Linked DNA regions of Homo sapiens. The protein of the gene in region 1 purifies or fractionates together with the protein of each later gene. This does not show direct contact. Each region holds a gene or a part of one and is shown on either strand. Other genes may lie near its edges.

What was found. The genes of interacting proteins can lie anywhere in the genome.
Region 2: the proteins of ZNF736 (region 1) and DNAJC10 purify together in Homo sapiens (co-immunoprecipitation; one large-scale study listed by IntAct). This does not show direct contact.

What each region holds. Positions count from the first base shown.
Region 1 is NC_000007.14:64,330,884-64,334,541, forward strand, and holds part of ZNF736 (zinc finger protein 736), read left to right. Parts: intron 1-3,658. UniProt on the Homo sapiens protein: May be involved in transcriptional regulation.
Region 2 is NC_000002.12:182,792,088-182,795,099, forward strand, and holds the end of DNAJC10 (dnaJ homolog subfamily C member 10 isoform 1 precursor), read left to right. Parts: 3' UTR 1-2,377; downstream 2,378-3,012. UniProt on the Homo sapiens protein: Endoplasmic reticulum disulfide reductase involved both in the correct folding of proteins and degradation of misfolded proteins.

The sequences.
Region 1 (3,658 bases):
TGATGCCATATTCTACTGTGGCTGAGATGATGTCCCAATTGCAGGACAAAGTTTTTATTAACTCTTCTCTCCCCTTTCCTCAAGTAGAAAGAAAGATTTTCTCCTGGAGCTGTGAACTGCACTGCCTGTGCCTAGGGTAAGGGTAATAATGCAGGCACTTTCTTGGCCATCCCAGTAGGCATCTCACAAGGTCACATGCACTTCAAGTTTTCTGGCTCTGAGCCTAGCAAAGCACCAGGATTTGCCCAGGAGTTGCAGTCCCAGTGGCTTAGACTGCCTTTCAAGTTTATTTAGAACCCCAGAGTGCTTTAGCCTATGGTGGTGGGGCTACCTGAAACTCAGGTTTTGATTACTGAAATGGACAATTCCTCTCTGACTAGGGCTAGTCTGAGTGCTCCCTCTGTAGGCTCTGGCTGAATTCTGCCCCATGCTGCTTTCTGCTATGACAGGCAGCACTGAGTTTTACTGCACAGTCTCACAATCACCGCACTCTCCCTTCTGTAAGCACATGGATTTTCTCTCTCTGCTGAGCTGCACTCCCAGGGAATGGAGGAGGGCTGCTGTTGGCAATTAACAGCTTTCTTTTTTACCCTCTTCACTGCCTCTTTGATTTGATGCTAAAACTAGGTCCTGTGATCACTCCCCAGAGTTTTTTGCTCTTATGAAGATGCTTCTTATTTGGATAGTCATTCTATTTGGTGTTTTATCTGGGGGATGATTGCTGGAGGGTGCTATTTAGTCATCTTGCTCCACTTCCCTTGCAGCCATGTTGTTTGAATTAAGTGCCACATATGAGGCTAAGGTGAGCCCGGGGTCAATCACGAGCGCTTTCAGATACATTCACGAGAGGTGAGTTTAGCTTTAGTTCCAAATGAAGATCATAGAGACTGCTCTGCTTGGATTTGGTAGAGGCAGGTCAGTGTGGCCCATATTCCCATTGCTGCAGTAGAAATTTCTGGCATCTGTGGCAGAGAAAGGCAACTGAGTGATGGAAAGGGGAAACTCACATTTTGGTTTTTATGTAGGATTTTACTGGTTCTGAACCTCTCTTGTGATAAAGAACAAAGGCAGTCTTTATCTGCAATTCTAGGTCCTTCTGCCTGTGGGTGTGGTGGTTTCAGGGGAGGGAGTTTTGCTCATGCTTCAAAGGCATATTCTCAAGAAACAGGTGTAATTTGTGCAGATAATCACACCTGGGAAGGGATCACAGAGAAGGAGAAAAAGAAAGAAATGGCTTATTCTGAGGTGAATGTGTCTCAGGTCAGAGACTGTCCAACTTTTTCTTCTGAAATATCATGTGTGTAGAACTTGCAAATGTTTACTTCTCTACTGTCGGGGAACCTGCCCCCAGTCTTTCTATTTTCCATAAGTGTCGGCCGGCTGAGAAATAAAGAGAAAGGGTACAAAAAGAGGAATTTTACTAGGCCACCAGGGGTGACATCACATATTGGTAGGACTGTGATACCCACCTGAGTCTCAGACTAGCAAGTTTTTATTAAGGGTTTCAAAAGGGGAGGGGGTGTAAAACAGGGAGTAGGTACAAAGATCACATGCTTCAAAGGGCAAAAAGCAGAACGAAGATCACATGCTTCTGAGGGAACAGGACAAAAGGCAAAACAGAACTGATAAGGGTCTGGGTTCAGCTGTGCACGTATTGTCTTGATAAACATCTTAAACAACAGAAAACAGGTTTCAAGAGCAGAGAACCCATCTGACCACAAATTTACCCGGGCAGAGTTTTTCCCCACCCTAGTAAGCCTGAGGGTACTGCAGGAGACCAGGGTGTATCTCAGTCCTTATCTCAACCACACAAGACAGACACTCCCAGAGCTGCCGTTTATAGACCTCCCCCCAGGAGTGCATTCCTTTCCCAGGGTATTAATATTAATATTCCTTGCTAGGAAAAGAATTTAGCAATATCTCTCCTACTTGCATGCCTGTTTATAGGCTCTCTGCAAGAAGAAAAATATGGCTCTTTTTGCCCGACCCCGCAGGTACTCAGACCTTATGGTTGTCTTCCCTTGTTCCCTAAAAATCACTGTTATTCTGTTCTTCTTCAAGGTGCAATGATTTCATATTGTTTAAACACATGTTTTACAATCAGTTTGTACAGTTAACACAATTATTACAGTGGTCCTGAGGTGACATACATCCTCAGCTTACGAAGATAACAGATTAAGAGATTAAAGTAAAGACAGGCATAAGAAATTACAAAAGTATTATTTGGGAACTGATAAATGTCCAAGAAGTTTTCACAATTCATGTTCCTCTGCCGTGGCTCCAGCTGCTCCCTCCATTCAGGGTCCCTGACTTCCCGCAACACGCTACTTGTGATGTTTTGCCTTATCAGTTTAACTCCTTTTTCACTTTTTATTCTCATGATAGTCAAGGGGCTCTGAGAAATACTTTTTCCTTATATACCAGAGCCTTCTCCTTATTCCCTACGTCCCAGCTTTTAATAAGCCGTGAAAAAATTGTCACCATGAATTTATACCTGCAACATTACAAATGTTTCTTCTGTGGCTGTCGAACATGGAAGGGTGTGGAGACCCAAGATTCCTGTTTGAGATGGGATCAGGTCTTTGGTTATCAGTGAAGAAGGAGACCATGTACTGTTTAGCTTCCATTAAATCTATGCAAAACTGCTTATAAAAATGCACATTTAATGAGAATGGTCTTTATTGCCCAGGATAACTCAGAAAGTTCTGAATAAAAAATAGAAGAGACTTCCTCTCTAGGATGCTAAAGCAAGGAAGTAAAAGAGGACACAAATGGAAAAAAAAAATCCGTGCTCATGGATAGGAAGAATCAATATCATGAAAATGGCAATACTACCCAAAGTAATTTATAGATTCGATGCTATTCCCATCAGGCTACCATTGATTTTCTTCGCAGAATTAGAAAAAATACTTTAAATTTTATATGGAACCAAAAAAGAGCCCATATAGTCAACACAGTCCTAAGCAAAAAGAGCAAAGCTGGAGGCATCACGCTACCTGACTTGAAACTATACTACAAGGCTACAGTAACCAAAACAGCATGGTACTGGTACCAAAACCGGTATATAGACCAATGTAACAGAACAGAGGCCTCAGAAATAACACCACACATATACAACCATCTTATCTTTGACAAACCTGACAAAAATAAGCAATGGGGAATGGATTCCCTATTTAATAAATGGTGCTTGGAAAACTGGCTGGCCATATGCAGAAAACAGAAACTGGACCACCCTCCCTTACACCTTATACAAAAATTAACTCAAGATGGATTAAAGACTTAAATGTAAAACCTAAAACCATGAAAACTCTAGAAGAAAACCTAGGTAATACCATTTAGGACATAGGCATGGGCAAAGACTTCATGACTAAAACACCAAAGGCAATGGCAACAAAAGCCAAAATTGACAAATGGGATCTAATTAAACTAAAGAGCTTCTGCATAGCAAAAGAAACTGTCATCAGTGAACAGGCAGCCTACAGAATGGGAGAAAATTTTTGCAATATATGCATCCGACAAAGGGCAAATACCCAGAATCTACAAGGAACTTAAATAAATTTACAAGAAAAAAGCAATCCCATCAAAAAGTGGGTGAAGGATGTAAACAGACACTTCTCAAAAGAAGATATTTATGCAGCCAACAAACATAAAAAAAAGT
Region 2 (3,012 bases), on another chromosome or scaffold:
TTCATGCCATCATCTTGACACTCAATACATGTTCAAAGAGTAAATTAAAGAAAAAAGAGATGCTCAAGTCAATTTATAAGTAATCCTCACAAATGCTTGCATACCATCAGTGAACAATTATTTTTTTATCTCCATGCTATAATCTTGCACAAGTTTCATTAGAATTAAATGCACTATCTGAAGTCTATGTTTATTAAATGAGGATTACAGTAGTTGGTTATCTTTGTGAGGGGTTTTGAGGGTTGTGGAACAGGATAACATTTTGAGGTACAAAAAATAATGAAGAGGATATATTCCAATTTCTTTCCTTCCCCAAGGCTTTTCATTACAGCTGTTATAAACCCTGGTAGAATTGATTGGTTTCCTTTTCAGCTTCCTGTTTTGTCCCTCAATGTTCACAAAAGTCCCATCTGATAAATGTATTGTTTAACCTCTCATTGTTTGAAAGAACACCTCTTTGCTCCCCACAGATTACAGACCTATTGGCTTAAGCAGTCCATCTAAATGCATGCCAGTTTCTTTCTTGATAAATTAGAGGCCTATAACCTCAAACCAGTTTATCTGCAAGAGAAGTGTGTGAAGTTAGACTCAATTCTTCCGCTAATGGAACATCGTAATCCTCCTTGTCATCTTTCCTTTGGCCTTCCTGAATAGAAATCATTTATGAGGAAGTTACATGAGCTCAACATGAGCCCCATGTCACTCAGCAAACATTTATTTGAGTACTTACAATGTGCTAGGCTTTGTTCTATGCATTTAAGATAGTGTATTAAATGTATTGACCTCATGAAGATTCTATTCTCGCAGTGGGGAGATAGACAATAAACAATTAATATAAGCAAATGTTAAGTATGTTAGAAGTATGTTAGAAGATGTGCTGTGAAATAAAGAAAAAGGTAGACCAGGGTATGAGGGATTAGGAGTGTGGGGGCAGCAGCAGGAGAGTTTCGGTATTAAATAGGGTGGACAGGGCAGGTCTCTTGGAGAAGATGCCATTGAAGGAGGTGGAAAAAATGTAGCCACTAAATGGGCTGAGGGTAGAGCATATGAACAGAGAGAAAGGCCAGAGGACAGGCTCCAAGGCATGCTTGGCAGGTTCAAGGAACAGCAGGGAGGCTCATGTGGCTGGAATGGAGTGAGCTAGCAGGAGAGAAGATGAAGTTAGAGGGAGAGAGAAAGTGGGGAGCCAGATCATAGAGGGCTTTGCAGGTCACTTGTAAGGACTTTAGCTTTCTAACTTTTGTAAGGACTTCAACTTCTACTCACAGTGAAATTGTGAAATTCCAGAACCAAAAAGAAGATCCTGGTAAAAGAGAAACTTTCAGCAAAATATATTTAACATTTTATTTGAGTGAAGAACAATTCATCCATCAGGCAGCACTGAGAACCAGAAGACATTCAGAGAGCTCTGCTTTGCGAGGTATGCAGTGAACATTCATAGACAGAAAACAAAAATTAAGTACAGAAATAGCTTGATTGGTTACAGATAGGCATTTGCCTTATTTGGACATGGTCTGCTCCAAATAAGGCAAGTTGGCAGCATGCAATTGGCTGTGACCTATCTGTTACAAAAATATATCTATATAATCCTAAATTAGGTTTCAGTTTATTTAAGTACTAAATTAGGTTGCAATTTATTACATGGGAACTCAAAGTCTGGAGACAGCCTCAGGCCAAGGTCCTCTTGCTTATTTAATTTAGCAATCCTAAAATTTTCCAGAGAGGAAACACATCACACACACACACACACACACACACACACACACACACACACACACTACCTACAAAAAAATAACAATTAGAAAGTAATTGGAGCTTGAAGTATTCTAGAAGACTTTGGAGCAAAGCCTTCCAAATTCTGAGAGGAAAATATTTTTAACCTAGGATTCTATTCATACCTACCCAGACTAACAAGTAGCAGGCAGATGATAAATATATTTTTAGGTGGTTAGGTGATGAAACACCTCCTCCAAATGAAGGCATAAACAACAATGCATGGGGATCCAAGAAACAGTGACTCCAACCCAAGAGAGCAGTGAACAAATCCACAGGACAGCAGCTAAGTAGGAGGCCTAAACATCACCTGGGGCAGATGGGGCGAGAGAGCAGAGAGCTTGGGAAAGAAGTCTCTGAGGAGAAAGAATGAGGCAATAAGTCAGATGCGTATTTGCGGACCTCAGAAAAATTTGAGTACATAGGAAACAATAGATGAAGGATAGAAATAATCCATTCAGATTCTCTCCTTTGCATGATGACCACATTAAACTTACAGAGTAAGAAATGTCATTCTAGATTTGATTCTACTGTTTGTCTTTGCAGTGAGCTATGTTTTTTTATAACATGTAGAAGTGAAATAAACTTGTCACAAAAATGCAAATTGTGTCACCAATTTTCAGCTTAACAACATAAAAATAATTATATACACTGACCCAGGTTAAGGACGGGTAGAAGTACGAATGTCCTTATCTTCCAGAGTGAAGTGAGGCTGTAGTCAGGCATTGCAAACTCACATAGTTAAGGGTGTTTTGTAGGTAAAGTACATGACGGTAGTTAGTGCATGCACTATTTTAAAAAGGCAGTAGTTTCTCTGCTCCAAAAGAGTATTGTCATGAAGAAAGAGACCCAGATGTTCCAGTTTACCCAGAATTTACCCCAATCCGGGTTTTTATGTAAAATATTTCAAATGTTCACAACTACTTAAAACATTTAAATATATGAGGGTCAAACAATACCATATCCAGCCTGGGGTTTCCAGTTTGTGACATTGCTACAGCAGATGGATAAGAAAATGAAGTAAGGTGTTTGAATGTATGAAATTAACCAGTATAGATGTTAAACTGGCAGCAGCAGCTCTAGAGTATGGAAGGGCCATCCGGTCAAAGTCAAGGTGAGGGGAATTTTTTTAAAGCTGTGTTGGCATTGCAAGGATATTATTTGCATTTATTGGGGAGGAGGGTAGGGGGAATTGGGGAGCTAAAATTCTTTCCCCCCAACACTTGGAGAGCAGTGATA